4 linked regions of the Homo sapiens genome follow. The protein of the gene in region 1 interacts with the protein of each later gene in a pairwise test. Each region holds a gene or a part of one and is shown in the gene's direction. Other genes may lie near its edges. The genes, in order: TH, NFIC, ZNF569 and TSPYL4.

Evidence for each region.
Region 2: the proteins of TH (region 1) and NFIC interact in binary tests that used the Homo sapiens proteins (3 or more experiments, as listed by UniProt).
Region 3: the proteins of TH (region 1) and ZNF569 interact in binary tests that used the Homo sapiens proteins (3 or more experiments, as listed by UniProt).
Region 4: the proteins of TH (region 1) and TSPYL4 interact in binary tests that used the Homo sapiens proteins (3 or more experiments, as listed by UniProt).

Annotation. Positions count from the first base shown.
Region 1 is NC_000011.10:2,168,807-2,176,615, reverse strand, and holds the start of TH (tyrosine 3-monooxygenase), read left to right. Parts: upstream 1-4,800; 5' UTR 4,801-4,829; coding exon 4,830-4,919; coding exon of another isoform or gene 4,920-4,931; intron 4,932-5,845; coding exon of another isoform or gene 5,846-5,926; intron 5,927-6,744; coding exon 6,745-6,966; intron 6,967-7,809. UniProt on the Homo sapiens protein: Catalyzes the conversion of L-tyrosine to L-dihydroxyphenylalanine (L-Dopa), the rate-limiting step in the biosynthesis of catecholamines, dopamine, noradrenaline, and adrenaline. Uses tetrahydrobiopterin and molecular oxygen to convert tyrosine to L-Dopa.
Region 2 is NC_000019.10:3,362,345-3,369,590, forward strand, and holds the start of NFIC (nuclear factor 1 C-type), read left to right. Parts: upstream 1-4,238; 5' UTR 4,239-4,292; coding exon 4,293-4,322; intron 4,323-7,246.
Region 3 is NC_000019.10:37,422,433-37,429,452, reverse strand, and holds part of ZNF569 (zinc finger protein 569), read left to right. Parts: intron 1-3,074; coding exon 3,075-3,201; intron 3,202-3,489; coding exon 3,490-3,585; intron 3,586-7,020. UniProt on the Homo sapiens protein: May be involved in transcriptional regulation.
Region 4 is NC_000006.12:116,251,064-116,258,943, reverse strand, and holds the start of TSPYL4 (testis-specific Y-encoded-like protein 4), read left to right. Parts: upstream 1-4,868; 5' UTR 4,869-4,935; coding exon 4,936-6,180; 3' UTR 6,181-7,880.

The DNA of each region.
Region 1 (7,809 bases):
TCATATATGAGTGTGTTTGCCTGTGTAGTGCATGCACATCCGTGTGTGCATCTGGTGTGTCCGTGGGTCATTACGAGTGCATCGTATGTGTATCGTGTACATGAGTACACTTGTATGTGTGGTGTGTACAGGTGCCATGTAAGTGTGCTTGTACATATATGCATGCATGTGTCATATGCATCTGTGTGTGCATGTGTGTGGTGCACACATGTGTTATGTCTGAGTGTGCCTGTATGTGTGCTATGTACACGTCATGTGTGAGTGTGCTTGCATGTGCAGTGTGTGGATGCTGCTTGTACCTGTGGTGTGTACCTGTGTCATGGGTGCTCACACGTGCATGGAGTGTTGTGTGTGTGCTTGTGTGCCCCATGTGTGCATGTGTGTGTGCCTCACACAGATGCCTGCATTTGCCTAGGCACTTGCAAGAGGACACCATGCTGGCTCTCAAAGATCACAGGGCCACCTGAGCCCTGTGCACACCACAGCCAGGCCATGGCTAGACCCTGCAGAGCCACAGGGCGATGCCTGTCAGCCAGGGGACCCAGAACACCTCCTGGGCTCCTCCCCAGCACATGGCTGGGCTCCTCCAGCAGGCCTGGATTTGGGAAGGGCCCGTGGTGGGCAAGGCTGGTGCTGGGGAGCAGGCCTGGTGGCCTCAGAGACTCGCCCTGTGGGCGGAGCAGCCTCACAGCCAGGTCGAAGTCAGCACTCTGACCCTGCCCCACGCGGGGAGTGGGCACCAGTCCCAGGGCACAGACGTGCTGGGTGATTAATCTGGGTGATTAAGCCTCGGGCTGAGAGGCTGTTGAGAGAGAACACGCTCCATTGTGGAGCTGGCTCAGCATTCCTTACGGCCATGGTGGCAGGGGCTGTAACCACAGGGACGGCGGAAGTGGTGGAGGGTGGTGGGGTATGGAGGGAAGCCCAGAGGGCTCCGTGCAGGAAGGTGGAGCCTGGTGCAATGGAGGGGACAGCAAGGGCTCCTCAGACCTCTGCGGGGCCCCCACTCCCCTGGTCACCTGTTTTGTCTCTGATCTGGCCTGGGTCGGCCCTCACTCCTGGCCCCACCTCATAGCCCCCCCTGGTGGGGCTCCGCTCCAGCCCTTCTCCTTCCCAGGGGCCAGTATGCTGGCCCCAGGGGTCTCTTGGGGCGTGACCTCGGCCTCCAGAGAACCCTGTCCCAGCTCTGCCCTTCCCTCTGGGGTCTCTGTAGATGGGACGCTGGTCACAGCAGCCTGTCTGATTTGTTCCCTGTGGCCTAGGTTCCTGAGCCCCACAGTGCCAGGGGATGGATGCCACCGGATCTTTGAAAGACCAGTGTCAGGCCGGGCGCAGTGGCTCACGCCTGTAATCCCAGCACTTTGGGAGGCCGAGGTGGGCGGATCACGAAGTCAGGAGATCGAGACCATCCTGGCTAACACAGTGAAACCCCGTCTCCACTAAAAATACAAAAAGTTAGCTGGGCGTGGTGGTGGGCGCCTGTAGTCCCAGCTACTTGGGAGGCTGAGGCAGGAGAATGGCGTGAACCGGGGAGGCGGAGCTTGCAGTGAGCCGAGATCGCGCCATTGCACTCCAGCCTGGGTGACAGAGCGAGACTCGGTCTCAAAAAAAAAGAAAAAAAGGAAAGACCAGTGTCTTGGGAGTTGGGAAACCTGGGCTGGAGACTCACTGCATGACCCCTGAGAAGTTGCACCTCAGAACCTCAGTCCTCGCATCTGCAGAATGGGTCTGTGAACACCTCAGCTGCCCGAACGTGGATGCCGCAGGCTGACCCAGCACTGAGCTCTACCAAGACCAGGGGCCAGCCGTGTGCTCCCTCCAGGCCTGTGCCCAGCGTGGAGAGGCCTCGTCCCGTGGGCGCTGGAGTGGAGCCTTCCTGGTGTTTGTGGACATCTCTGGAGAGGGCCAGAGGCAGGTGGGTGACACGGGGCATGGCTCAATCATGGGTGGTCCAGACTGGAGAGGTACCCTCGGGCTGGGAGCGGGGAGGCTGGCCAGGGTAGACTTTTGGGGCCTCCATGGATACCCTCACCATCTGGAATCGGAGAGGGGCACGGCACAAAGGAGGGCGGGGCCAGGGCCAGGACTGGAGTCGGGGGCACCTCTGTGCCAACAGGGGCCTTGGATCTGGGGTACAGCATGGTTCCCCGGCCCTGAAGGGGCTGGCGTGTGGGACAGGCTTCCCAGGAATGGATAGGCAGGGATGGATGCTGCCTGATTGGGGCGGGAGGCTGGAGGCAGGGCAGGTGCAGGCACCTGAGGGCAGCACTCACCTCCACAGGGGTCCAGGGGCCTCCCCAGCCTCAGCACCTGGCCTGGGCTCCTGCCTCCAGAGAGCCTGGCCCCAAGGAAGAGTCTAGTAAGCTTAGTTCCCATCGGGCTTCCATGAAAGCACAACTGGCCCGGCAGGAAACCGAATTAAAAAGCAATATTTGTATCAGTGGAAGACATTTGCTGAAAGGTTAAATCCACATCCGGCAGTGTGGGCCATGAGCCTCCGGCGTGGTGTTCATCAGGCATGTCTCTCCTCCTGGCCTGGGCACCTGAGCACTGGGGCCGCCCTGGGCAGAGCTGGGGCGGGGTGCTGGGGGGCCTGGAGCTGCCTCACCGAGGGATCCTCAGCAGCCGACCCTGGGGGAGGCAAATGAGACTCTTTCTGGGGACCTTGAGGGGAGCTCGGGGGAGCCATGCAGAGCTTCACCAGGCCTGGACACTGGGCATGGAGGCTGGGCCACCCAAGGGCCATCACCAGGGACTCAGGTGGGTGGGCCTCAGCCCTGGGTGACAGAAGCTCACGGGCCGCAGGGCGAGGCCAGAGGCTGAGCCTTCAGGCTGAGGTCTTGGAGGCAAATCCCTCCAACGCCCTTCTGAGCAGGCACCCAGACCTACTGTGGGCAGGACCCACAGGAGGTGGAGGCCTTTGGGGAACACTGTGGAGGGGCATAGCATCTCCGAGAGAGGACAGGGTCTGCACTGGGTGCTGAGAGACAGCAGGGGCCGAGCGGTAGGCTTCCCTGCCCCCAGGGATGTTCCAGAGGAGCGCAAGGGAGGGGCATTAATATCGTGGCAAGAAAGGGCAGGCATTGCAGAGTGAGCAGCGACGGAACTGGGTTTTGTGGGATGCATAGGAGTTCACCCGGATAAGAGGTGGGTGAGGAATGACACTGCAAACCGGGGATCACGGAGCCCCAAATCCTTCTGGGCCAGGAAGTGGGAAGGGTTGGGGGGTCTTCCCTTTGCTTTGACTGAGCACTCAGCCTGCCTGCAGAGGGCAGCGAGGAGCCACGGAGGGGTGTGGGACAGGGATGCCATGGCTGAAGCAGTTTTAGGAAAGGTCCCAGGGGCTATTGTTGAAGAGAGAACGGGGAGCGGGGAGTCCCACAGCTGACAGGAGCAGAGTGGGCCCTGAGAGATGCCAGCTCTGGCTGCCACAGTGACCAGCCGGGGTAGGCCTTCGAGAAGTCAGGGAGCGTCTAGGGCTTCTGGCTCCTGCTGGGCCCAGGGTGTCATCTTGGGCTGCCAACACCAGAAAGCCCAGCAGATACAGGAAGCCCCAAGCCCTGTCGGAAACGGTTCTTCTCCAGGAGGGACAGCGGTGGCAGCGTTCAGCCGCAGGCCATGCACTCTGGGGCCACGTCCTTCCCTCTGTACAGTCCAGCATTGTCAAGGCAGGCTCTGGCCATCTCTGCTGACCCCAGAGGGATGGGGAGGCCTCCCCTTCCACCAGAAGGGCCAGAAGCCACCCTGGGCAGGGGCATCACTCTCCCTGGGTGGGGCAGCGGCTGGGAGCAGGAGGTGCCAGTGGGCGTGGGCTGGATGCGGGTGCCTGCGGGGCGGACATGGAACTTGGGGGAGGCTCTAGGCTGGGGTTGTCCTCAAGGGAGTTCTCAGGTCACCCCAGGGTCACCCTCAACCCGGGGCCTGGTGGGGTAGAGGAGAAACTGCAAAGGTCTCTCCAAGGGGAAGGCATCAGGGCCCTCAGCACTGAGGGACGTGCGTGCTCTTTAAAGAAGGGGCCACAGGACCCCGAGGGAAGCCAGGAGCTAGCAGTGGGCCATAGAGGGGCTGAGTGGGGTGGGTGGAAGCCGTCCCTGGCCCTGGTCGCCCTGGCAACCCTGGTGGGGACTGTGATGCAGGAGGTGGCAGCCATTTGGAAACGCGTGGCGTCTCCTTAGAGATGTCTTCTTCAGCCTCCCAGGGTCCTCCACACTGGACAGGTGGGCCCTCCTGGGACATTCTGGACCCCACGGGGCGAGCTTGGGAAGCCGCTGCAAGGGCCACACCTGCAGGGCCCGGGGGCTGTGGGCAGATGGCACTCCTAGGAACCACGTCTATGAGACACACGGCCTGGAATCTTCTGGAGAAGCAAACAAATTGCCTCCTGACATCTGAGGCTGGAGGCTGGATTCCCCGTCTTGGGGCTTTCTGGGTCGGTCTGCCACGAGGTTCTGGTGTTCATTAAAAGTGTGCCCCTGGGCTGCCAGAAAGCCCCTCCCTGTGTGCTCTCTTGAGGGCTGTGGGGCCAAGGGGACCCTGGCTGTCTCAGCCCCCCGCAGAGCACGAGCCCCTGGTCCCCGCAAGCCCGCGGGCTGAGGATGATTCAGACAGGGCTGGGGAGTGAAGGCAATTAGATTCCACGGACGAGCCCTTTCTCCTGCGCCTCCCTCCTTCCTCACCCACCCCCGCCTCCATCAGGCACAGCAGGCAGGGGTGGGGGATGTAAGGAGGGGAAGGTGGGGGACCCAGAGGGGGCTTTGACGTCAGCTCAGCTTATAAGAGGCTGCTGGGCCAGGGCTGTGGAGACGGAGCCCGGACCTCCACACTGAGCCATGCCCACCCCCGACGCCACCACGCCACAGGCCAAGGGCTTCCGCAGGGCCGTGTCTGAGCTGGACGCCAAGCAGGCAGAGGCCATCATGGTAAGAGGGCAGGTAGGTGCCCGGCGGCCGCAGTGGACCGGAGCCCAGGGCTGGTGCCAGCTGCCTCTGCTACTCCCCAGCCTGGCTGGCAGCCCCAGGCTCAGGGTCCATGCAAACCCCTGGGACGCGGCGTGGATGTGGAGGCCTGGGCACAGCGGCATCCCCTGTGCCTGGTGTTTGAGTCCCTGTTGGGGGAGGGTGAGGTGATGCCTGTCCCTGTGTGTGCCCCTCTTAGGCCGACCTCTCTCGGGGGTCGTGTGGGTCTCTGTGTCTTGTTTCATCTTGAATCTTAACGATCGGAATGTGGAAACAAATCCATCCAAAAAATCCAAGATGGCCAGAGGTCCCCGGCTGCTGCACCCAGCCCCCACCCTACTCCCACCTGCCCCTGCCTCCCTCTGCCCCAGCTGCCCTAGTCAGCACCCCAACCAGCCTGCCTGCTTGGGGAGGCAGCCCCAAGGCCCTTCCCAGGCTCTAGCAGCAGCTCATGGTGGGGGGTCCTGGGCAAATAGGGGGCAAAATTCAAAGGGTATCTGGGCTCTGGGGTGATTCCCATTGGCCTGTTCCTCCCTTATTTCCCTCATTCATTCATTCATTCATTCATTCATTCACCATGGAGTCTGTGTTCCCTGTGACCTGCACTCGGAAGCCCTGTGTACAGGGGACTGTGTGGGCCAGGCTGGATAATCGGGAGCTTTTCAGCCCACAGGAGGGGTCTTCGGTGCCTCCTTGGGCACTCAGAACCTTGGGCTCCCTGGCACATTTAAAATGGGTTTTTATTTATGGACCTTGATTGAAATGTGGTGTGAGTTGTAGCAGTGTCATTTCCAGGTACCTTCTCAGGGACACAGGGCGCCCTCCCCCGTCCTCCCCCGCCCTCCCCTACCCTCCCCCACCAGGCTCCCCATCAGGCATCCCCTCCCCAGGGCGCCCCGGGGCCCAGCCTCACAGGCTCTCCGTGGCCTGGAACTGCAGCCCCAGCTGCATCCTACACCCCCACCCCAAGGGTAAGTAAGAGGGGACTCTGGGAGGGGCTTCTGCTGCTCCCCTTCATGTTCCACAACCCTGGAAGCTCAGGATGAAGCTGATTCTTCTCTTACAAGGGGCCCAGAGCCTTCTTGGGAGTTCAGCTCCAAGGGATGAGCCCCAGGTGTCTGCCAAGTCCCCCTCTGTCCAGGCCTGGGACGGCTCTGGGATCGAGGGGTCAGAGGCGCTGAGCCCAGGGAGAGACACCTGCGCCCAGAGCTATGACAAAGGGTGGAGGGATGACAAGGCAGCCAGGAGCGGGCGCCTGCGGGGTGGCACAGAGGGGCAGGGCCCGAGGACAGGTGTCCTGATGGGAGTGTGAGAAAGGGTCCCCTGTGCGGCAGCCAGGAGGGTAGGGGGGTTGTTCACTGGGGCCCTGTGGGGGCAGCTCCTTCCTGAGCTGCCGTTCCCTCCCCGGCAGCCGATGCCACTGTCCATCAAGACATCGCCCTCTTCCCATCACTAATCCAGTTAGCGCCTGGCCTGGGGATGAGTGACACAGCGTCTCTGTCTGTCTGCTCGCCACAGAGTGGGGAGCAGGCGAGCACCTTCCCAGCCCCCACTCCTCCCCCACCACCACTGCTTCTGACTGGGCTGCCCCCATCGGGAAGGGCGTGCAATGCCCGCAGGCACCTCGGCTAGCATCTGCCCCAGCAGGCACACAGTAGGCGCTCAAAAACGTGCTCTCATCCCCTGCCTCTGTGTGCCATCAGCGCTGCCCGACTGTGGGACCAGCTGTGGGTGGAGGTCCCCGGGTCTCAGCAGGTGGAGGAGGCATGGGTGCCCCTTGTCCCCACAGTCCCCGCGGTTCATTGGGCGCAGGCAGAGCCTCATCGAGGACGCCCGCAAGGAGCGGGAGGCGGCGGTGGCAGCAGCGGCCGCTGCAGTCCCCTCGGAGCCCGGGGACCCCCTGGAGGCTGTGGCCTTTGAGGAGAAGGAGGGGAAGGCCGTGCTAAACCTGCTCTTCTCCCCGAGGGCCACCAAGCCCTCGGCGCTGTCCCGAGCTGTGAAGGTGTTTGAGGTGAGCTGGTGGCCTTCGTGTCCCTGGGGCAAGTTCACCTGTGGGTGGGGCTGTGTGGGCTGAGTTCCTGACCCCTCTATAGCAGAGGTGCAGCTGCCCAGGCCCCCGAGGCCGGCACAGGATGCAGCAGGGGAGTCTCAGGCCTCAGCTCAGCCCCCATGGCATCTAGCCACACCCCCGTGTTTTTGAGGGATCCTGAGCCCACCCCTAGGGCTGAGGCTACCAAGCCCCACTGTGCCTCTTGCCTTGCCCATCCCCTGGATCCCCCTCACCCACCATTTCCCACGTGGGGGGCTCCCAGCAGGGCAGCACAAGAGGCAGGGGCAGGGCAGTGTGCCCTCTCCCACCCACCCAGCACAGTGGCTCAGGTGACCACTGATTGCATTAGTCACTCCGGCCCCACTGTGCCCCGGGAGGCAGGTGACCCAGCTCCCGGAAGAAGCTCCCAAATGACATTAAAGCCAGACTCCCCGCCCCCCAGCTCCCAGAGCCAGTTTTGTGGCCCGAGGGCCACTGCGACCCACCGCCCTTGTTGCTAGGCAACAGGAGGTGGGGGTGGAGCGGACCCTTCTGGCCAGTGTCCTGGACGCTCAGGGGCCAGTGAGACTCAGGGCCCATCCTACAAACCTGGATGAGGCCACCAGGGTTGGGGGCACCTTCTGACCAGTGGCTGAGGAGCCGGACTGTGTGGCATGGCCTTGGGACACACACACCGAGCCGCCCAGAACCAGGTTAAGCCTCAAGCGGTGACAACTCCTGGTTAGGCACGTAACACAAAATCCAACTTGCCAGTGGCAAACCCTGGCCTGGTGGCCGACAGCTGACCTGAGCCTGGAAGAACGG
Region 2 (7,246 bases), on another chromosome or scaffold:
GTCAAGAAGCGTCCTGTGGGGAGTTGGGAGGGTGTGTTTGTGGCTGTGTGTGTGCCATGTGGGTCTGTGTGTGTGTGTGTGTGTCTCTGCTCGCCCCTCTTTGAGGAGGTATCTGAGGTCAGGTGTGGGGGGAAGGCTGTGATGATATATGGGTCTGTTTTTATGTGAGTCTGTGCGTGTATTTGTGTCTTTGTGTATGTAGCTGTGTGTCGTGTGGAGTCTGTGTCTGCAGCTGCTTGAGTCTGCACGATGTGTGTCTGTGTGTCTCTGTAGGTCGTAGTGTGTGGTGTGTGTGTCTATCTGTACCAGCCTCAACGGCCTATCTGACCTTTAACTCACTTGACTTTAACATCCCTTCTTACAGCCTCAGTTTCTCATCTGTAAAATGGGACCACATGGGACCCTTGCAAGGTTCCTGGGGAGCTGACATTGTGAGCCCCTTGCTGAGCAGGTGCGGGGCTAGGGGAGGCTGACTGCACACTGCACTGCTGTGTAATCATTTGCCTGCAAGATTATGTCCTTTATTCTCTGGGTGTGGTGGCTGTGGGGTTACCATGGGGGGCTGGGGGTTCCTGTCTACCCTGCCTGAGCTGCTCTGTGAATTGCATTCAACTTTTTAAGTTTTCCTTTAATTACTGAAGCCATTAGTGATCATATGAAGAGGATACAACTGTATCCAGAGGAAAAAAAATCCAATCTTTCTGATCACCCCCATTCCTGGGTGGAACCCCGCTCCAGAATGTTACCATCTATAGTTGGAGCATTTGCAGGACTGAGAAATACACACTTATAGAGGATACATGTGCATATGTGTATATTTCCATAAAGGATGTACTTGTGGAAATACTCGTGTATTTCCATAAAGGAGACATATGTATATGTATGTGTATGTGTGTGTATATATATATATATATATATATATATATTTTTTTTTTTTTTTTTTTTGAGATGGAGTTTCGCTCTGTTGCCCAGGCTGGAGTGCAATGGCATGATCCTGGCTCACTGCAACCTCCACCTCCCGAGTTCAAGCGAACCTCCAGCCTCAGCCTCCCGAGTAGCTGACATTACAGGCACCCTCGCCCATGCCCGGCTAATTTTTGTAATTTTAGTAGAGACGGGGTTTCGCCATGTTGGCCAGGCTGATTTTAAACTCCTGACCTCAAGTGATCTGCCTGCCTCGGCCTCCCAAAGTGTTGGGATTACAGGCGTGAGCCACTACAACCGGCCAAAGGAGATATGTGTGTGTGTGGGTGTGTGTGCATGTGTGTGTATGTAAAGGATACTATGTATATTTGTATAAATACATGTGTACTCTTTAAAACCCTAAATGAGATCTTGAATTTCCTTGCTGGGTCTACAGCAGTGGGGTCTCAGCCAGGGTTGATTCTGTTCCCATGGGACACTTAGCCATGTCTAAGGACATTTGTGGTTGTCACGACTGGGGGGTGCCCCTGGCATGGAGTGGGTGGAGGCCATGGACTCTGCTCAGCACCCTGCAGGGCCCAGGACGGCCCCAACCCAGAGAGCGATCCAGCCCCAGTGTCCACAGTGCCAAGGGGGAGAGCTCTCCAGCTTTCTGTCCCCCCACTTGTCTCTTGGGGACATAACCAGTTGGGAGCCACTGGTTTTACTCAGCTGCATAGTGTCCCAGCCTGTGTTGGGATTACTAAACCGGTCCCCCACAGATGGACAGCATGGCTGCCTCCAAATTGTGGGCATTAGTTTTATAGGTGGCAGTCAACTCTTTTGTGCTCCTGTATCTGGGACAGTTACAGAGATGCCGAAGAGTGAAATAACTGTAGAGAGAGTGCTTTGAAAAAAAAAAAAAATGAGCCAGATTGTGCTCGAAAGTGCCAGGAGCTAAATCATGCACCCATCTTCCGGGCCCTCCACATGCAGGTCCCAATCTACCAATTGCCTTTTTAAAGAAACTATGACGTACAGTTCCCTGTTGTAACCACGGGCAGGTATTTGCTGACTTGCCTACAACCTGGAGGGTTATGAGCTGGCGTCGCCCCATTTCACAGAGGGAGAGCCGAGGTGCAGAGAGACGAAGCTGCTGACTGGAGGAGACATAGACCCAAGCAGCGAGCCCACGCGGCAATTTAGGGAACCAACTGTGTGTGCTGCGGGGGTCCCTTGCCACCCAAACTGGGATATAGGCTGCTGTTCGTACACTTGCAGAAGTTTCTCCCTGCAGCTACCGCCACCAATAATATTCACACAGCCTTCCCACATGCTATGTAAAGACTCCAACCTTCCCCACCTCCCAAGATGCATCCTGTTACTATAGCCATTTTACAGATGAGGAAACCGAGGTTCCAAGAGGGGCAGTCTCTGCTCTCTAAACTTCACCTTCCAAAGGATTCTAAGCTGCTGAATGAAGGCTGCAGGCAGGGTGGTCTGTACAGGGGAGGGAGGGTGGAAGGCACGGGGTCTGGAAGTCTAGGAGGAGTGTCTGAAGTCAACTGCAACTTTTAAATATCTGTGAATTTTAGATTTCACCCTGTATGTGTCCCTAGCGTGTTTTAATAAAATAAATTGCTTCACGTTATATTGGTATGTGGATTTCCAGATACACTTCTCACCATTTAATTCAAATGCTCCCCACAGCTGCACAGTGGGTTTAAAATACACAGACACACACATTTATGGACCGTTCGTGATGTACTAAGCACTGTTTGAATAATGTCACCGTCATGCAGAGGGGAGCCTGTGGGGGGCCTAGGGAACCTACGCTGCAGGAATTCTGCTCCCTCCTAGTTTACCTGTCAGACCCTGGGCAAGTGGCTTCCGTTCTCTGGGCCTCAGTTTCCTCTCCTGTAATGCCTGAGGATAATGGGTGCTGGTATCTTCTGCGCCCCTGGGCCTGGGGCACCTGCCCCAGCTTGGTGAGAGGGTATCATTTGTCCTTGGGAAGCTCAGAGAGATGAGGTGAAATGGCCAAGCTTTCTAAGAATGTGTCTTTAGTGAACATTTGACCCAAGGTCAAGGCTCTGCTAAGGTCATTGTCCTTATCCCCAGCAATCCCACAGGATGGGCATCTTTAAGCCACTTTATAGGGGAGAACCCTTGGGATGGGAATGAGAGACACAGCAGCCTCTGAGCTAGCCTGGGAGGATCCAGGGAGTGAACCGGGGGAGGGTTGGGGCCCTGTCATCAGATGCCCTGGGGGCTCAGACGGAGGCAGGCCAGGTCTCTGCCCTGTTACGTCTAGAAGGAGAACAGAATGTGGGCTCCAGGTCCAGATGGCCTGGCTCCAAGCCACACTTGCCATACCTCAGTCTTGAGATCTGTGAAAAGGGCACACCCCTGAGGCAGGTGGAAATTATTGGATACCCAGGGGGAGGCTGCAAGGGTTTATCTGGCCAGCTGGAGATCCCGCCTGGACACCGTCCTCCTGGGGTGCTGGAGAGACACACAGGCGAGGCCACCCCTCCCCTGCCCCTTGGGTGCTGGGTGAAGAGAGCAAATTCTGGAGCCTCCCGTGTTAGCCTGGGCCCTTCTGGCCAAGGAAGGGACAGCTGCACACAAGCCCCTCTAGCTGGGGACCCGCAGCCCCTGCCTGGCTCTGGGGGGAGAAGGGAGCCAGGGTGCTGTGGGACCAGCTCACCGTGCACCCAGGGTCGTACATCTTTAAGGGGAAAGAGGCGCGCTGGCCGGCCTCTGCGCACGTCACTTCTTCATTCCTTCCCTCCCCCCTGGCTCTTTCCTCCAACTTCCCGGCCAGCTCGGGGGTGATGGGGGGGTGGGGAGGGGGGGCCTTAAAAATCCACCCCTGGCCCCTCAATGTCCAGAAACAACCCTGTCCCCCCTCTCCGCTTGATCCGAATTGGGGTCGCCCTGCAGTCCTGGGGTCCTGGTCTAGTGCCCTGGGGCATTGCGTAAATACGGGAGGAGCGGGGGGGTCCTGAGACGTCGGGGGAGGCTCTCCTTTCTCGCTCGCGCCCTTTTTTCCCTCGTTTCTTTGAAAGTTGGGTGTTGAGAAGTGGGAGGTTCGGGGTGGGAGGGGGAGGGTGTCAGAGGGTAGAGAGAGAGACAGAGAGACAGAGACGGGGGAGAGAGGAAGAGAGAGACGGAGGGAGAGAGGGACAGAGAGCGAGGCGGGCGGCGCGAGAGAGGGAGAGCAGGAGGGAGGAGGAGGGAGACCGAGGGAGGAGGCGGCGAGGAGAGCGCGCCGGCCGCGGGGCGGGGGGGGGGGTTGGGGGGGGCGGGGGGGTGGTTTGGAAAAATGACTCAGTAAGTTCAGCGCGCCCGCTCCGGCCGGCCCTGCGCCTCCCGCCGCGCCCGGGATGTATTCGTCCCCGCTCTGCCTCACCCAGGTACGGTCCTCGCCCGGCCCCCCGCCGGCGCCCCCGCGCCCCCCGCATCCCAGCCCCGGAGTTTTGAAGCAGGAGGAGGCGGGACGAAAAAGGCGCGCGTCCCTCCCGCCATCCCTGCCCGGGATGCCCCCCGCGCCGAGGGCTGGGGTCCGGTGGGGGGATGGGTCAGGCTGGGGTACCCCCCCCACACCCTTACCTACCGCGGACCCCCTACGCGGGACTCCCGCCCAGCACCCCCAACCCCGACTCTCGGGACCTCTCCCGGATGTGGGGCTTGGTCTGCAGATTTGCGTCCCCCCCCCACACACCGACGCACTCCGCACCCCCGCCCCGACACTCGGAAAGGTCGGGGTGGGGGCTGGCCCCCCTCCAGCAAGGGCTCTGCGGGAAGCCCCCCGCCTGCCTCTGAGAGGAATCTAGGGGGTCGTGATTGGACCCTGGGTCTCCCCAGCTGGAGAGAAAGGGACCTCTCATGTGTTTTCCCCGTGTCCCCCCACCAAGGTTGTGCGGGCCGCCCTGGCCCTCGGTCGCCTTTCCCTCGTTATTGGCCCACGTGTGCATGGAGGGGGAGGGGGCAGGAGAAGTTGGAGGCCCAGGAGGGGGAAGGGTGCTCCGGCGGCCCGGCTGGGTCCCCCCTCCTTTGCAAGCCCCCCAGCACCGTCCCGGTATTTTCGCTGCATCGATTCTGGATTCTGGATTCTGGATTCTGGAGCCGCCGCCGGGAGGAGCGGGAGGCCCGGCGCTCCGGGTCTGGCCCGGGCACTGCGGCGCTGCGGACGCCCTCGCCAGCCCGGCACCTGCCCCGTCCCCTCCCCCTCCCCCTCCCCCTCCCGTAGCCTCTCACCCCTGGCCGCACTCCCAGACTGCCCCGGGGCCGAGCCTTGTGCAATGGCCGAGGGGGTGTGTGGGGAGGGGGCGGCTCCCCCCGGGGACTCCTTCCAGCCCAGGCTCCCGGGGACCCCGAGGTCTGCAAGTTCCGTTTTCTAGACCGCTGCTTTCCTCCTTACGCAGTGTGTCTTTAGGCTGGAGAGGTTCTGGCCTCAGTTTCCCCTGAAGTGAGGTGCGGCTAAGGCCGGTTCTGGAGAGGGGACAGTATGGCGGGCAAACTGTAAAGTCCCGGCACGTGGGGGGTGCGATTCCAGCGAGGGCCAGGCCCGTCTTAAGAAGCACTGTGTGGGGAGTATATGAGTCCCCGGCTTCCGCTCCAGGGCATGGTGCAGTGAGGGACCCCCCACGCCAGGCATGCTCCTTGGTAGGGTCTTTCTCACCGGCCCCCTGCAGCCGACAGGGAATGTGGGAGCTGGTGCTGAGGGGGTCTGAGGTCTGTCCTACCTGTGATCCCCTGAGTGACCTTGGGTAAGTCCCTGTCCCAGCCTCAGTTTCCCTTTCTGAGCAGCTTTGGGGGGGGGGTTCCCGAAGAAGGCATCTCTTTGAAGTTCTCCAAGAACAACTAGGGTTCGAGTGGGCACGCTGTGTGACCTCGGGCAGCCTTTGAAGTCTCTGGGCTTGTGGGGTGACTGAGGTGTCCCCGCTCTGTCCTCACCAGCTGGAAGGAGCCATTTGGGAGGGCTGAGCGGAGGGGAGGCTGTTCCAGGCTGGGGAGGTTGGAAGGCTGCCTGTGCACCCTGGAATTCCCCCATCAGGGCTGGTTGGGAGACATCCTGGTTGCTGGGGTGGGTTGGGGGTTAGTAAGAACCCCAGTCCAGGCTTTGCCTCAGAGAATTGCTAACTCGGCCTCAGTTTCTCCAGGAACAGGGCAAGGACCAGCCAGGAGGGCTGTCTGTGGAAACCAAAAAACGGAGAGGCTAAAAACTAAAAACTATCCAGGGGTGCTGCGTGCAAGAGACAGAGATGAGAAGACAGAGACAGGCAGAGAGACAGAGGCAGAGAGCTCCCAGGCCAGAGTGGGGACAGCGAGTCCCAAGTGCAGGGGGCTCCCTCCTCCCCTGCGATTCTCCTCTCTGCCCCGCCCTCCACCCCAGCCCTGTAGTGGAGCTGGGGACCCCCTTTCCAGTTTGTCTTCAGCCTGAATGTAATCCCCACTGTTCCCCCAAGGCCCAGCCTGGTCTGGGGTAGCCAGTGGGGTGGGCTGGGGGACTCAGAAGGACCCTGAGTGCCCCATGCAGGAGCCTCCCACCCAAGTCCTGGCTGCCTGACTCAGTTTCCCGAATCACGTCCCCTCCGTTTCTCTCATCTTGGTCTCTTTTTGTCTGTCTTTCTCTCTTTCTCTCTGTCTTGCTCTGACTCTGTGTGTGTGTGTGTGTGTGTGTGTGTGTGTGTGTCTGTTTCTCCCTGTCTCTCCATCTCTGTCTCTCCCCGCCTCTGTTTCACTCCCAGTCACTGTTGGTCTCTTTGTGTCTCTCTTTCTCATCCTCTGTCTCTCTGATGTCTCAGTCTCTCCCACTGTCTCTGTCTCTTCATGTCTATCTCACCATCCCTTTCTCCTCTTTGTCTCTGCATGTCTCTTTGATGTGTCTCTGTCTCTCTGTCTCTCCCTCCCTTTGCCTTCTTTGTGTGTCTGTCCGATGTGTCTCTGTCTGTTTCTCTGTCTCTGTCTCTCTGCCCCCTTCCTCTCTGTCTCTGTTTCTCTCCAATATGTCTGTCTGTCTCTTCATCTCTGTCTCACCTTCCCTTTCTCCTCTGTCTCTGCGTGTCTCCCCTTGCCCCCTCTCTCCCTGTCTCTCTCTATCTCTGCATGTGTCTCCTTACTCCTCTCTCTCTGTCTCTCTCTGTCTCTGGGCCTCCCTCTCCCCCTTTTCCCAGCTAATTTTACAACCTGAGCCCAACCGAAAATAGCTCCCTTTTAGCTGATCCGACCCGGATCCTTCTCGGGAGCCGAGGCTGGCGGGGGGTGGGGGGCATCTCGGTGCCAGCCCGCTCTGTGCCACCCGGGCCCGGCCCGCCGAGTGGGGAGTGGGTGCTGG
Region 3 (7,020 bases), on another chromosome or scaffold:
ATAAGTTTATTTGTCTCTCATATTGAAGTTCAAGGCTGGTCCTGTAGCTCCAAAGGGCAGAGAACGAAACTCTTTCTCCTTCATTGCTCTGCCATTCTTGGTTGTTGGCTTCTGCCTTATTATCTCAAATGGCTCTGTTTGCTCTCGACTCTGGTAAGTCGCATTGACTTACCAGTCTACAGGAAGGTAGAAGCTTAGGAGAAATGGTATACCTCGTGCCTTTATGTTCACTTATCAGCAGTTGCATGCAGTCCTTTCATCTCACTGTCCAGAACATTATCATATAAACATATTAATACTTATTTCAGCAGACCATGTGCCTGGCCAGAAATTGGGAAGACAGAATAAATATTGGAATAGAAGAATAACAGTGGGTGCTATAGTATTGCACTGTTGGGATTTTCTTCTTTTTTTTAAGATCAGTCTTAGGCTTATGTTTCCCTTTAACCTATTCATTTCATTATGAATTTAAAAATTTCAGGCTGGGTGTGGTGGCTCACACCTGTAATCCCAGCACTTTGGGAGGCCGAGGCAGGCAGATCATTTGAGGTTAGGAGTTAGAGACCAGCTTGGCCAACATGGGAACACCGTCTCTACTGAAAATACAAAAATTAGCTGGGTGTGGTGGCGCACGCCTGTAGTTCTAGCTATTTGGGAGACTGAGGCAGGAGAATCACTTGAATCCAGGAGACGGAGGTTGTAGAGAGCCAACATCACGCCACACTGCACTCCAGCCTGGGCAACAGGGCGAGACTCTATCTCAAAAAAAAAAAAAAAAATTCAACCACAGATATATACTACTTTAAATATCAATTAGTTTTAATGTTTTTTCCTAATTTGGGATGTTTATTTTTCTTCCTTAAACTTACTAAACATTTGCCTAATTCATTCTTCTTAAACTATCAGCTTTTTTTTTTTTTTTTTTTTTAAGAGACAGGGTCTTGTTCTATTGCCCAGGCTGCTCTAATGCAGTGGTGAGATCATGGCTCACTGCAGTCAAACTCCCAGGCTTAAGCAGTCTTCCCACCTCAGCCTCCCAAGTAGCTGGGACTATAGCCACGCACCACCATACACGGCATTCATTCATTCATTCATTCATTCATTCATTTATTGTAGAGATGAGGTTTTGCTATGTTGCCCAGACTGGCCTTGAACTAGCCTCAAGCAGTTCTCCCACCTCGGCTTCCCAAAGTGGTAGAATTACAGGCGTGAGCCACCGCGCCTAGCTCCAGCTTTTAAATATGGAGATTTGTGTATATGTAAGTTCTAAATTTTTCACTTTAAATTGTTTCTGTTTTTGCATTTACTAAATTCTTTTTCCCAAGTATTTTCTTCAAATGTATTTTAATGATTTCTTTTGGGATTCTCTCACTCTTGAGCTAGGGGCAATTAGGATTTTCTTGTAAAATCTTTGGTGCTGATTTTTAAAATTTATTTACTAGTTTAATGATCTGACCTCCTGAAGAAAATACAACTTCCTGAGGAAAAAGTCTGCAGCTGAGGTAGTCCCAGCAAGAGTGTGTTTCTTATGTGCTCATGTTCTTCCCTGTAATTGGTGAAACTATTATACCAGGGCCAGATTTCCACATCATGCTTTCTCCTCAGTCCCACTTCCTCACCAAATGCTTTATCCAGGCTTATTTGGATCTTCCTCCCAGATGAGGGGAAATATTAAAAACCCCTGGATTTCAGGGTTTTTTTCCTCTGACACTTTGCCTTTTGCTTCTTGAACATGTTTATTGCAAGCATCATGATTTTCAGCAGGAAGGGCTTTCAGGAGCTGATCTCCCATCAGTACCACAGCTTTCTCTGAGCCCTTAGTGTTAATGGATGTTCATGCTCATAAGTTCCTTTTAGGACCTAGAAACAAATTCTTAGATACATTGTGAACGAGCTATTGGAGACTTTCTTTTTTCTCACCTAGTTTCTGGTAGAAATTCCTGAAACAGTAGGAAATATGGATTGCTCCCTTTTTTCCAGGCTGAGTGCTATTTAAGATTTTTTCTTATGTTCATATACGTTTGGGCATTTCTGTTTTGAACTAGGAAGAGTGCATTAGATTTCTATATTCAAATCACATTGCCTTTAAGAAGTTCACCAGTTTTTTTGAAATTCATTCAATAGCTTTTTTTTTTTGAGACAGGGCCTTGCTCTGCCACCCAGGCTGGAGTGTAGTGGTGCAATCACGACTCACTGCAACCTCCACCTCCCGGGCTCAAGCAATCCTCCTACCTCAGCCTCCTGACTAGCTGGGACTACAGATGCACACCACCACACCTGGCTAATTTTTGTATTTTTTGTACAGACGGTTTCGCCACATTGCCCAGGCCCGTCTCAAAACTCCTGGGCTCAAGGGATTTTCACGTCTCAGTCTCCTAAAGTGCTGGGATTACAGGCATGAGCCATGTAATACCCAGCCATTCTACAGCTTTTTAAATACACAGTTTCAGTTATAATTCTATTTCTGACCATTAAAAAACAAATTGTCATCAGGGCATGTGTTTTTTCATGGTTGTCTCTGAGATTCTATCTGTGGCCCCTTTTCCAGTACATGTAAACTATTTGAACAATCAGATCCCATTTTCATGGCTGCAGACACATACTACAGGCTGATGACCCATAAATCTTCATTTCCAATGTGGATTTCTCCTGATCTCATGAACAATACATCCAACTGCTAAATCAGTGGCTATCTCCAGTTGCATGTCCCACCATACCACAGATTTCACCTATCATTCTGTCCCCTGCTTCTGCTTCCATCTAAGCCTTGCTTTCATTTTTTCCTGCCTTTGGTATCTTGTGAGATCTCAAACCACTTAACTTGGTTAAAGTTTTATTTTTATGTTTCTTTCACACTCAATATAAATTGGTACCTAAAATCTCCCCTTTAACTCATGGTAGATATTAAAGACATGTGCTTGCTAATCAGTGAATGAACATAAATGACAGGATGCTGCTAATATGATGGGCTTTTTTAATAACCTCTGATTAATATCAGAACAAGGTTCAATATATTTTGTTTACAATCACCCAAGATGGATGACTTCAGATTGAGTGGGAGTGTGTTGTTACAGGGAACAGTAACATTCAAAGATGTGGCTATCGACTTCACTCAGGAGGAGTGGAAGAGATTGGATCCTGCTCAGAGAAAACTGTACCGGAATGTGATGCTAGAAAACTATAACAACTTAATCACAGTAGGTAAGAGTAATTTACTATATAATTCAAACTCTGGAAAGAAAGTACCTTTTTTTTCCTCCCAGTGTTTCTGAAATACATGGACCTTTTAAATATTAGAGTGAGCTTGGCCTTGGGATGCTTTTGCTCATGTGAATGTCCATGCTGCAGTTTTCAGAGCAAAAGGGGACAGAACCCCCGAAGCCACATTTTCTTGTCCTTTAGCCTGGTTTTCCTGGGCCAGCCTCAATTTTTGGGTGGTTCTTTGTTCCTAGTATGTATGCCCAAATCTATGTAACTTCCCTTTGACAGGCTATCCGTTCACCAAACCTGATGTGATTTTCAAATTGGAGCAAGAAGAAGAACCATGGGTGATGGAGGAAGAAGTATTAAGGAGACACTGGCAAGGTTAGTGGAAGGGAACCAGACAGGTGAGGAGAGGTCAGGGCCTATTAATGATTAATCAGTGAATGGTTGATCCCTCTAAAATATTCTTCAAAGATATTTTCAGAGGTTGGCACAGTGGTTCATACCTATAGTCCCAGCACTTTGGGAAGCCAAGGTGGAAGGATTGCTTGAGTCCAGGAGTTTGGGACCAGCCTGGGCAACATAGTGAGACCTCATCTCTTAAAAAAAAAAGAGAAAAGAAAAATTGGGCCTGGCACAGTGGCTTGCGCCTGTAATCCCTGCACTTTAGGAGGCCGAGGTGGGCGGATCATGAGGTCAGGAGATCACAACCATCCTGGCTAACACGGTGAAACCCCATCTCTACTAAAAATACAAAAAATTAGCTTGGCGTGGTGACACGCGCCTGTAGTCCCAGCTACTTGGGAGGCTGAGGCAGGAGAATCGCTTGAACCCGGGAGGCAGAGGTTGCAGTGAGCCAAGATTGCGCCACTGCACTCCAGCCTGGGCGACAGAGCAAGACTCTGTCAAAAAAAAAAAAAAAAAAAAAAATTAGCCACGTGTGGTGGCATACGCTTATGATCCCAGCTGCTTGGAAGGCTGAGGTGGGAGGATCACTTGAGCCTAGGAGGTTGAGGCTACAGTAAGCCATGATCACAGCACTGCACTCTAGCCTAGGCAACGGAGTGAGACCCTGTCTCAAAAAATATATATATATTTTCAGAAAGCATGTAGACCTTTTGTGTGTGTATGTGTGTGACAGAGTGAGACTCTGTCACTGTGGAGTACAGTGGCGCGATCTCGGCTCACTGCAACCCCCACCTCCCAGGTTCAAGTGATTTTCCTGCCTCAGCCTCCTGATAGCTGGGACTACAGGCACGTGCCACCACACCCTGCTAATTTTTTGTATTTTTAGTAAAGACAGGGTTTCACCATGTTAGCCAGGATGGTCTTGATCTCCTGACCTCGTGATCTGCCTGCCTTGGCCTCCCAAAGTGTTGGGATTACAGGCATGAGCCACCATGCCCGGCTTTTTTTTTTTTTTTTTTTTTTTTGAGACAGAGTCTCACTCTGTCACCCAGGCTGGAGTGCAGTGGTGCAATCTTGGCTCACTGCAACCTCTGGCTCCTGGGTTCAAACGATTCTCATGCCTCAGCCTCCCGAGTAGCTGGGACTATAGGCATGCACCACCATGCCTGGCTAACTTTTTGGTATTTTTAGTAGGGATGGGGTTTCACTATGTTGGCCAGGCTGGTCTTGAACTCCTGACCTCAAGTGATCCGCCCACCTCAGCCTCCCAAAGTGCTGAGATTACAGGCGTGAGCCACCGCGCCTGGCCTGATGTACACTTTTGTAGTACAAAAGTGACCATTGATGCAAACTCTTTTATAAACCTAAGATGTCATTTCTAGATACCATTCTTAATTTCTTTCCTCAGAACTTAGAGATCTGGTTGGCTTTCTTACCTGTGTGCTAGATACCAACCTTTCCTAATAAGTTTCCAGGCTTACTTTGATATTCATTCTATTATTAGCATCTTCGGGAGTACCATCCACCCTCATATACAGGATCCTTTCTTTTTGCATACATTCACTAATTTGCAGTTGTTAAATCAAACCTACTGACATTTATAGTCCCTTACTTTCTCTTCTTTCTTCCATTGTAAATGTCTGAAATGTCGTACAGTCATACTTCCCACTGTATTTTTAGGTTTTACTCTCATACTTCAATAATCACTACCACCCTTTATTTCAATAAAAGTTTTAAGTCAGTGCTGATTTTTTGGTAGCTCCCATTTTCTGATATATTTGTCATGTACATATGCAAGTGTATGTAATGTAGGTGTGCATCTATATATACCCACATATACATATATACATATACATATATATGTCCATATACACGTATTTTGAATTTTATAAAGTCATTTTTGCCCTCCAAAGAGACTGTAATAATTTATATTTCCACCAGTAACTTCAACCAGTGTAGTCTGTTAGCATTTAAAAAAATCGTTGCCAAACTGAGGTGAAAAATGGTAGCTAATTATAGCTTGAATTTACATTTCCTTTATGATGAGTGAAGGCAAGCATCTTTTCATGTTTCCAATCTATATTTCTTTGTTTTAATAAACAGTTGGTATCCTTTGCCCTTGTTTCTGTCAAGTTCTTAATTTGTATGAACTCTTAACATATTGAGCTGATTGGCACATCATCTGTCATATGTTTTTCTTGTGTTTTTTTCCCAAAGAGATTATTCCTCGTTGAAGTACTTTTTTGCCACCTCGACTTTTTAAAATAATTCATGTAGTTAAAACAATCTGTTCCTATAGGAGATTATCACAATTTTTAAAATGTATATGGTTCAATTATGTTTAGATATTTCTCAATAATGACTCATCCTCTTATGTTTGCTATGAATTTAAATAATTGTTTATACTTTTAAAGTTTTTAATGTCAATGTTAGACTGGTTTTATAAATAGAATTTGGAAGCTTTCCTTCATGCTCTAGAGCATTTATATAGCATTAGTGTTAAAACTCCCTAGAAAATTTGGTAGATGTTACCTGTTGAACTATTTCGACCTTGTGTATTTCTGAGGGAAGTTTCCTTGACAACTCTTTTCATTTTTCCTTTTATAACTATCCTATGTGTATGTAAATATATTTTTGTCTTTTGGCATTAGTTTTTGATAATAGGTTGTATTTTTCCATGAAATTACCCACTTAATTCTAGTCTTCAAATTTTCAGAGTTGACAAAGTAACTTCCATAAATATTAAAATTTCCTCTGTATCTGTAAAAAGTTACCACACATTGATATTCCAGGATCATCTATTATATTTGAAAATTTGTTTCATCTGTATTTTCAAATGTTTTGGTATGAAATTATTTGTAGTGTTCTCTGATTTTAGCTAACAGTTGCTTGTTTTCCTATTGTTTATTTTTTGTGTGGGATAGGTGGGTAGAGAGGTATTCTTGGAGGTTTGTGCTATGTCCTGTAGACCCAGTGATGCATCAGAATGTCTGTCTTATCCATTACCTTGTTTTGCAGTGTGACATTGCTGTACCGTAATTCTAATGGTGAAAGTTCTATTCCCCCCGCACCATAATATTCTTCATTTCAATGGTGGTTTTCTTTTTCTCTTCCAATTATTTCCTTGGTTCTGCTGGTAAAATTTTATACCCTTTCTGTTTTCTCAATGATTCTTCCTCATGCATTTATACAGGCATATCTCATGTTATTATGCTTTATTTTATTGTGCTTGGCAAATGTTGCATTTTTTTATAAATTGAAGGCTTGTGGCAGCCCTGCATCGAACAAGCCCATTGGCACCATTTTTCCAAAAGCATGTGCTCACTGTGTGTGTCTGTGTCACATTCTTGCAATATTTCAAACCTTTTCATTATATTATTATCTGTTATGGGGATCTGTGATCAGTGA
Region 4 (7,880 bases), on another chromosome or scaffold:
CCAAATGCTTCCACAAAGCTCAGTGTCCCATTGTGGAGCGCCTTACTAACTCCATGATGATGCACGGCTGCAACAACGGCAAGAAGCTCATGACTGTGTGCATCGTCAAGCATGCCTTCGAGGTCATACACCTGCTCACAGGCGAGAACCCTCTGCAGGTCCTGGTGAACGCCATCATCAACAGTGGTCCCCGGGAGGACTCCACACGCATTGGGTGCGCCGGGACTGTGAGACGACAGGCTGTGGACGTGTCCCCACTTCGCCGTGTGAATCAGGCCATCTGGCTGCTGTGCACAGGTGCTCGTGAGGCTGCCTTCCGGAACATTAAGACCATTGCTGAGTGCCTGGCAGAGGAGCTCATCAATGCTGCCAAGGGCTCCTCCAACTCCTATGCCATTAAGAAGAAGGACGTGTGGCCTTCTTGGAGCATGTGGCCAAGTCCAACCGCTGATTTTCCCAGCTGTTGCCCAATAAACCTGTCTGCCCTTCAGGGCAGCCCTACCAAAAAAAGCAAAAAAATTACAACTAAGTTATTATAATGACTTTAAAAAATGTGCATGTTGATATACAATATGAATTTCAAGAAAGGAAAAGGGAGTTATAAAGCACGTTATAAAAAGAAATATCTGGCCAGGTCCGGTGGCTCACACCTGTAATCCCAGCTCTTTGAGAGGCCAAGGCGGGCAGATCACCTGAGGTTGGGAGTTTGAGGCCAGCCTGGCCAATATGGTGAAACCCTGTATCTACTAAAAAAAAAAAAATTAGCCGGGCATGGTGGCAGGTGCCTGTAATCCCAGCTACTTGGGAGACTGAGGTAGAACTGCTTGAACCCAGGAGGTGGAGGTTGCAGTGAGCCAAGATCTTGCCACTGCACTCCAGCCTGGCTGTGACAGAGCGAGACTCCATCTAAAAATAAAATAAAAGTAAAAAATAAATGTTATATCTGATGAGCTGAGAACTGTTAAGGCATTGAAACACAGAATCATGAATTCTTGTTTCTCTTTAGTAATTGGGCACTTCCTCAACAATTGTCACTAATTTTATGGATGGGGGCAGGCTATAGACTGAGTGTTTTTGTCCCCTCTAATATATTGAAACCTAATCCCCAATGTGAGAGTATTTGGAGCTGGGGTCCTCTGGGGGGCAATCGGTGCCCTATAAAAGAGACCTCTGGTTAGAGCCCTAATGAGATTAGTGCCACTATAAAAGAAACCCCAGAGAGATCCCTCACTCCTTTTTGCATGTGAGGACACAGCAAAACAAAACAAAACAAAACACAAAAAAACAACAAACTACAGTCTAAGAATCAGGATGTAGGCCCTCACCAGACACCAAATCTGTTGGTGCCTTGATCTTGGAATTCCCAGCCTTCAGAACTGTGAGAAGTAAGTTACTGTTTACAAGCCACCCACTCTATGGTATTTTGTTACAACAGCCTGAATGGACTAAGACAGGTAAAGGAAAAGAAGATAAAGAAGAAAGTTCAACATTAAATTGGGATGGTCATGTAGTCTTATTTCTAAGAAGGTGGCTTTTCATTTTATGGGTTGTGTAAGGTTGCAGAATACTATGGTGAATGAGTGCACAGGCTCTCCAGTCAGATTACCTCGTTCAGATTGTGGCTCTACCACTTGCTGTGTGATCTTGGATAAACCACTTTATTTCTCATTGCCTCAATTTCTTCTGAGGCATAGGGAAGGGGAGGTCATAATATCACCTCACAGGGTCCTTGTAAAAATTAAATGAGATACACATTTAAGCACATAAAAGTATATGGTATATAGAAAACACTAAATAATGAACCAGAAACTATATCATTCTGAAAAAGAAACTGCTGGTCAAAGATGTAACAATAGGGGATATTTCACAAATTTTCCAATCTTTATACTTTAGTAAAGTCATTCCTGTTTGACTGTATTAATTTATGTTTGAACTTCCATTAAATATCTTTTCTCCTTGCAAATAAAAATTACCTCATAGATTTTCATGGCATTTTCTATCGATATTTTCCCATAGAATCATAAGTCACTGATGTAGTTTTTTCTGCTTAGTAAGGTTTATTGCCAATTTCCAGTAGAATAGACTTTACTGTGTACAAAATATATATTATTCTAATGTGCAAAAAATGTAAAATATAACTCATAGCTACTATTATATATCCACCCACCTCAAAATGAAACACAAGGGTAGTCATACTATTCATTTTGGTAAAATTTTTTAAAATTTTTATTTAAATTTAAATTTTCACTTAAATAATCAAGATTCATTAAAACATTCTATGAGATAGTAACTGGACTATACTGTCGTAGATGCTACAGAAGCTGCTATGCAGTCATTATCTAGCTGGGATAAAACTGACCTTAATGAAACAACCAATAAAGTTAAAAAGTAGAGGATAAATAAGTACGGTCATTTGCTGCATAACATTTTGGTCAAAGATGAACTGCATATACAAGTGTGGGACCATACAATTGTAATACTCTATTTTTACTGTATCATTCTTATGTTTAGATACAAAAATGCTTACCATTATGTTACAAGTGCCTACAGTATTCAGTACAGCAACATGCTGTTCAGGTTTGTAGCCTAGGAGCAATATGATATACTATTTAGCTTAGGTGTATAGTAGGCTATTGCAGCTAGGTTTGATAGATGTACTGTATGATGTTTCCATAATGACAAAATCCCTGTCATTCAGTGAAACGTAACTGTACTAAGTTGGATAGTAAAAGTCATAAGGGCTATACAGAAATCAGAAGACTGTCAAAATGGCAAGTAATTAAGGAAGGAGGTAAAGTAATAAGGTGGGAGGAGGCAATCTGCCAATTAATACATATGTGACCATGGGCATGTTAACTGCTCTGTGCTCACTGGGTCTTTGTTTATAAAATCTAATGTATTTAAACTGCCTAGTACAATCTACATGAACTGAGTGTTAAAGAATGGCCAGGTGGTTATGAGTGAAAAATGATTCAGGTGACAGAACTAATACAGGCTAGAGATGGGAATGCTTTGAGTAGTAGAGATATAAATCTTTAAAAAACTTTGGCACACACAAAAAGAAAAAGAAGTTCACATGTAATTTTATACTTTTCTATAAATTTGTATAGTAGCAAACTTGTTTTTTCCTGCTGCATGGAAAAGTAACTTTCATTCAGTATTCCCTGCTTCTCTTCATCTTGACTCAGGTTATAATGGAAAAGTTACTCTTTCAACAGTGCAAAGGTTCTTTGGAAAAGAAACAGAGCAGTGTCAATAATTCAAAGTCACAAAGTCAATTATAGCACGCTGTTTATGTGTTTACAAAGACGATACCTCAATAGATTGATTTCACCCCACAAATAAAAAAAGAGCGTTTATTAAGACAAAGAGGAAAGAGGGAGAGAAAAATAATTGCTCTCTGCTGTGTGAATCTTGTTTGCATATTTCTTATGGGATAACTGATTAGCTGGCAGGCAGTAAAGAGGTCATTCTGGACACATTGTCCTTGGGTAGGCTGACTAGGCATACAAAAAATCCTGCAAGGCAGGCTGTTTCTCCGTATTGTCTGCCAGTGACCTTTCATCAGTACTTTATCTTAGTTGAACCAGAACTACACTCCTTCCCTCGCTAGAAGTCTCAGTATATATGATGTATTCCTCTAAGAGGAATCCTTTTTCTCTAAATCTGTACTTCTGAGCCTGTATTTGAAAGTGATCATAATCTGGGGGGCTTAAAATGGAGTTTCTTTTACAAAGAGTTATAATCATAACCGTTTATTTGAATATAAATTTGACATTAAACATAAATATGCAAAATTTAAATTTCCCTTTGGTCTTGCATTTTTCTAAGGATTAACACCATTATTCTCACACTCCAACAAACTAATATATTGTACTGATAATCACTATCAAATGAATTGTAAGAGCTAACTGACTCGAATAGACAATAACTAACCTTACTTTTAAAGTATTTTAAGAGACAGTAGCATAGATGCCTGCACATAGCTGATTATTGCTCCTGTGCTGCAGTGAATTACCACATGAACACATTTTGAAAAGATTTGTTAGCTTCATGTCCACAGGCATTATGAAGCAGGAACCACTTTTAGATTAAGATTGTAACCTGAGGAAAAGAACATATGCATCAGTTTAGAAATTAAAATCCCCTGAGATATTTCTTTCAGTAATGCTTAAAAGCCTAAATTTGTGCTCGTGTGCCAGTCACCTCTACGTAAGGAAAAACATTTTGCTACTCTTTGTTAAAAGTGAAGAGGAAATATTGTCCACTTGTTTTGTAGATGTTGGCCAAATTATATAAACTTTAAAATCTGTAAGACAAATTGAAATATTCCTTTATTATGTCTTGTTAGGATGAGAGAAGTTTGCCTTTCAGCTGCTCCTTAATTTTAAAAATAACAACACAGCAACACTTCTCTTTAAAATCAAACTCTGCTCATTTAAATTCTTTGGTAATAGCCATGAATCCACACCTTAAAAGAAGGAAGGCCTGTGAGTTCGTGAATCCACTTTCCTACTCAGGAGAAGCCCTATGAACTGACTTGAATAGACAGTAACTCACCTTAAAGTAAATATTTTCAGAAACAATAGGTTAGGTGCCTTAGAAATTCATTCAGAGGCTTAGAAATCCACATTAACACAGTTCTTACATGCTTGAGTCTGGTCTACATCCATTTACGTAAGTAAAACTCCCCTTCCAGACTGACGAAATTCTTTTTGTGACAAGAAGACAAAGGAATACGATGGATTGATAAGCGTAGTCAACCGCGCAGAGAGTTCTCGCGCGATGTTACGACGCTACCGCCCTGACATCACCAGTTGCCATGGTAGCACCGCCGAGAGTAAAGGAGGGGTGGTGCTAGACGTTTCGGGCAGAGCTCGGCCGCTGCGGAGGACAAGGAACTCTCCCTCTCCCACTAGTCTGACTTCTTCCAAAATGAGCGGCCTGGATGGGGGCAACAAGCTCCCTCTCGCCCAAACCGGCGGCCTGGCTGCTCCCGACCATGCCTCAGGAGATCCGGACCGAGACCAGTGCCAAGGGCTCCGTGAAGAAACCGAGGCGACACAGGTGATGGCGAACACAGGTGGGGGCAGCCTGGAGACCGTTGCGGAGGGGGGTGCATCCCAGGATCCTGTCGACTGTGGCCCCGCGCTCCGCGTCCCAGTTGCCGGGAGTCGCGGCGGTGCAGCGACCAAAGCCGGGCAGGAGGATGCTCCACCTTCTACGAAAGGTCTGGAAGCAGCCTCTGCCGCCGAGGCTGCTGACAGCAGCCAGAAAAATGGCTGTCAGCTTGGAGAGCCCCGTGGCCCTGCTGGGCAGAAGGCTCTAGAAGCCTGTGGCGCAGGGGGCTTGGGGTCTCAGATGATACCGGGGAAGAAGGCCAAGGAAGTGACGACTAAAAAACGCGCCATCTCGGCAGCAGTGGAAAAGGAGGGAGAAGCAGGGGCGGCGATGGAGGAAAAGAAGGTAGTGCAGAAGGAAAAAAAGGTGGCAGGAGGGGTGAAAGAGGAGACACGGCCCAGGGCCCCGAAGATCAATAACTGCATGGACTCACTGGAGGCCATCGATCAAGAGTTGTCAAACGTAAATGCCCAGGCTGACAGGGCCTTCCTTCAGCTTGAGCGCAAGTTTGGCCGCATGCGAAGGCTCCACATGCAGCGCAGAAGTTTCATTATCCAGAATATCCCAGGTTTCTGGGTTACTGCCTTTCGAAACCACCCCCAGCTGTCACCTATGATCAGTGGCCAAGATGAAGACATGCTGAGGTACATGATCAATTTGGAGGTGGAGGAGCTTAAACACCCCAGAGCAGGCTGCAAATTCAAGTTCATCTTTCAGGGCAACCCCTACTTCCGAAATGAGGGGCTTGTCAAGGAATATGAACGCAGATCCTCTGGCCGGGTGGTGTCTCTTTCCACTCCAATCCGCTGGCACCGAGGCCAAGACCCCCAGGCTCATATCCACAGAAACCGGGAAGGGAACACTATCCCTAGTTTCTTCAACTGGTTTTCAGACCACAGCCTTCTAGAATTCGACAGAATTGCAGAGATTATCAAAGGAGAACTGTGGCCCAATCCCCTACAATACTACCTGATGGGTGAAGGGCCCCGTAGAGGAATTCGAGGCCCACCAAGGCAGCCAGTGGAGAGCGCCAGATCCTTCAGGTTCCAGTCTGGCTAATCTCTGTCCTGTGAGAAGCTTCTGCACAAGTTTCCTTACCACCTCCTCTTGGACCTATGCTTGGCCAACAGCATGCAGTCTTCCATCTGCTTTCTCTTCATACTGTGGATTATCTTTTCCTTTGGTTCTAAATCTTCAGTAATCGGTTGCAAGATTGTTGGCTTACCTGCCTGTGCCATTCTTCCTCTGGGCCTTCATGCTTTTCTGCATTGTGTTAACATGTTTCAAGTGCATGGCCTTCTACGGCTTCTATGCCAAGCGTATGATACTATAGATATAGTGTACCATACTGCCTTTCTTTGCATGGCTTGGACCCTATCTGTGACCATGCTCTTCTCCCAATTTAAGTGGTTCTGTACCACAAAGAATCTTGATACATTTTCACAAATAACTGATTGGGCTTCATACTTTATGCTGGCTGTGTCCTGATACCCATGTACTTATGGTAAGCTATTTGGGTATTACCACTGCAAGACAAAACTGATATCTTAACCCGGCCATCAACCCAAATTGGACATTCCAGACTACCACCAACTGGATCCCAGCTGCCTTCCTGGGCTTGTGCCATCCACCCTACTGGTTATCTGATAGAACAAGCTGGTGGCTGATGGGTGACTGCTAGGCGTGACTGAGGTAATAGATGAAAAGTGTTCTATGTTATCACATTGGTTTTCCTGTACCTTTGGTTACTCTACGTCATGACCAGCTGCTGGTGAGTATGAAGCCTGTGCTATAGCCCACCCCTACTCACTCTCACCTTCTGGTTGAACTTTGCTTAGGCCACCATTGTCTGCCTCATCAGGAACTATCTGTAGACGTAGCTCCCAGGGAGCTCACAGCAACACCCCCTACCACCAGGATGGGCAGTAATATGTGACAGAGCCCAAAGCAAGGCTGGAACGCAGTCCCTTCCAGCTTAGTCTTTCTGACTCCTAGCCAACAAACCATCCTTAATGTGAGCAACTTCTTTAGGCATTTCCTCTTTTCCCCGCCTGCACCCACTCTGAACATGACAAAAGTTGCCAGAGTTGGGGCATTGAGGAAGAGATATTTCTGGAATGTGAGACTTGTTATGCCTCTGTCTCTTTCTCTCCCTCCTCCTCCCCTCTCCCTCCCCCTCTCCCTCCCATCCCTTTTCTTCCCTTTCACTCTGAAGCAGTTTTAGCTTATTAACAGAAAACAAAACTGGCAAAGCAGGCTTTTTGTTTAATTTGCTCTTTCCCTGATTGTGTTCAGAGAGAAAGGTTATGATTAAATGGGCTCCAGATCTCTTATTGCCCTTATTCCTCCACCCCACTTCTTTTAGCAAGGTCTGAAAGTTTCAAAGGGAGACCTATAGGTTAATTGTTTAGTTATAGGCAGTGTTAAATTAGGCAGATTTTGACATATTTATCTTTTTACCCCATCCATTCTACCAAAACCTGTGTATTTCTTGAGTTTTTAGTTTGAGAAGCTGGAAAGAGAGAGAAGGGCCTCACAGTGATGGGTTCAGGACGGGTCAAAGGCAAAGGCCTTTGTGATGTGAGCAAAGGCAACCAAAACTTAGCCTCACTCCACTTTTCTAAAGATGGAAATTCTTTTTTGGGCCTTGGACTGCTTCTAGGGTAGCATTTTGTAGGTCACTCTTCTCCTTTGTACTATTTTGTTTCTGCCCTGATGTCCCTTGGGTCTCCATCCTACTGCCTGGCTTTCTTGGCCCT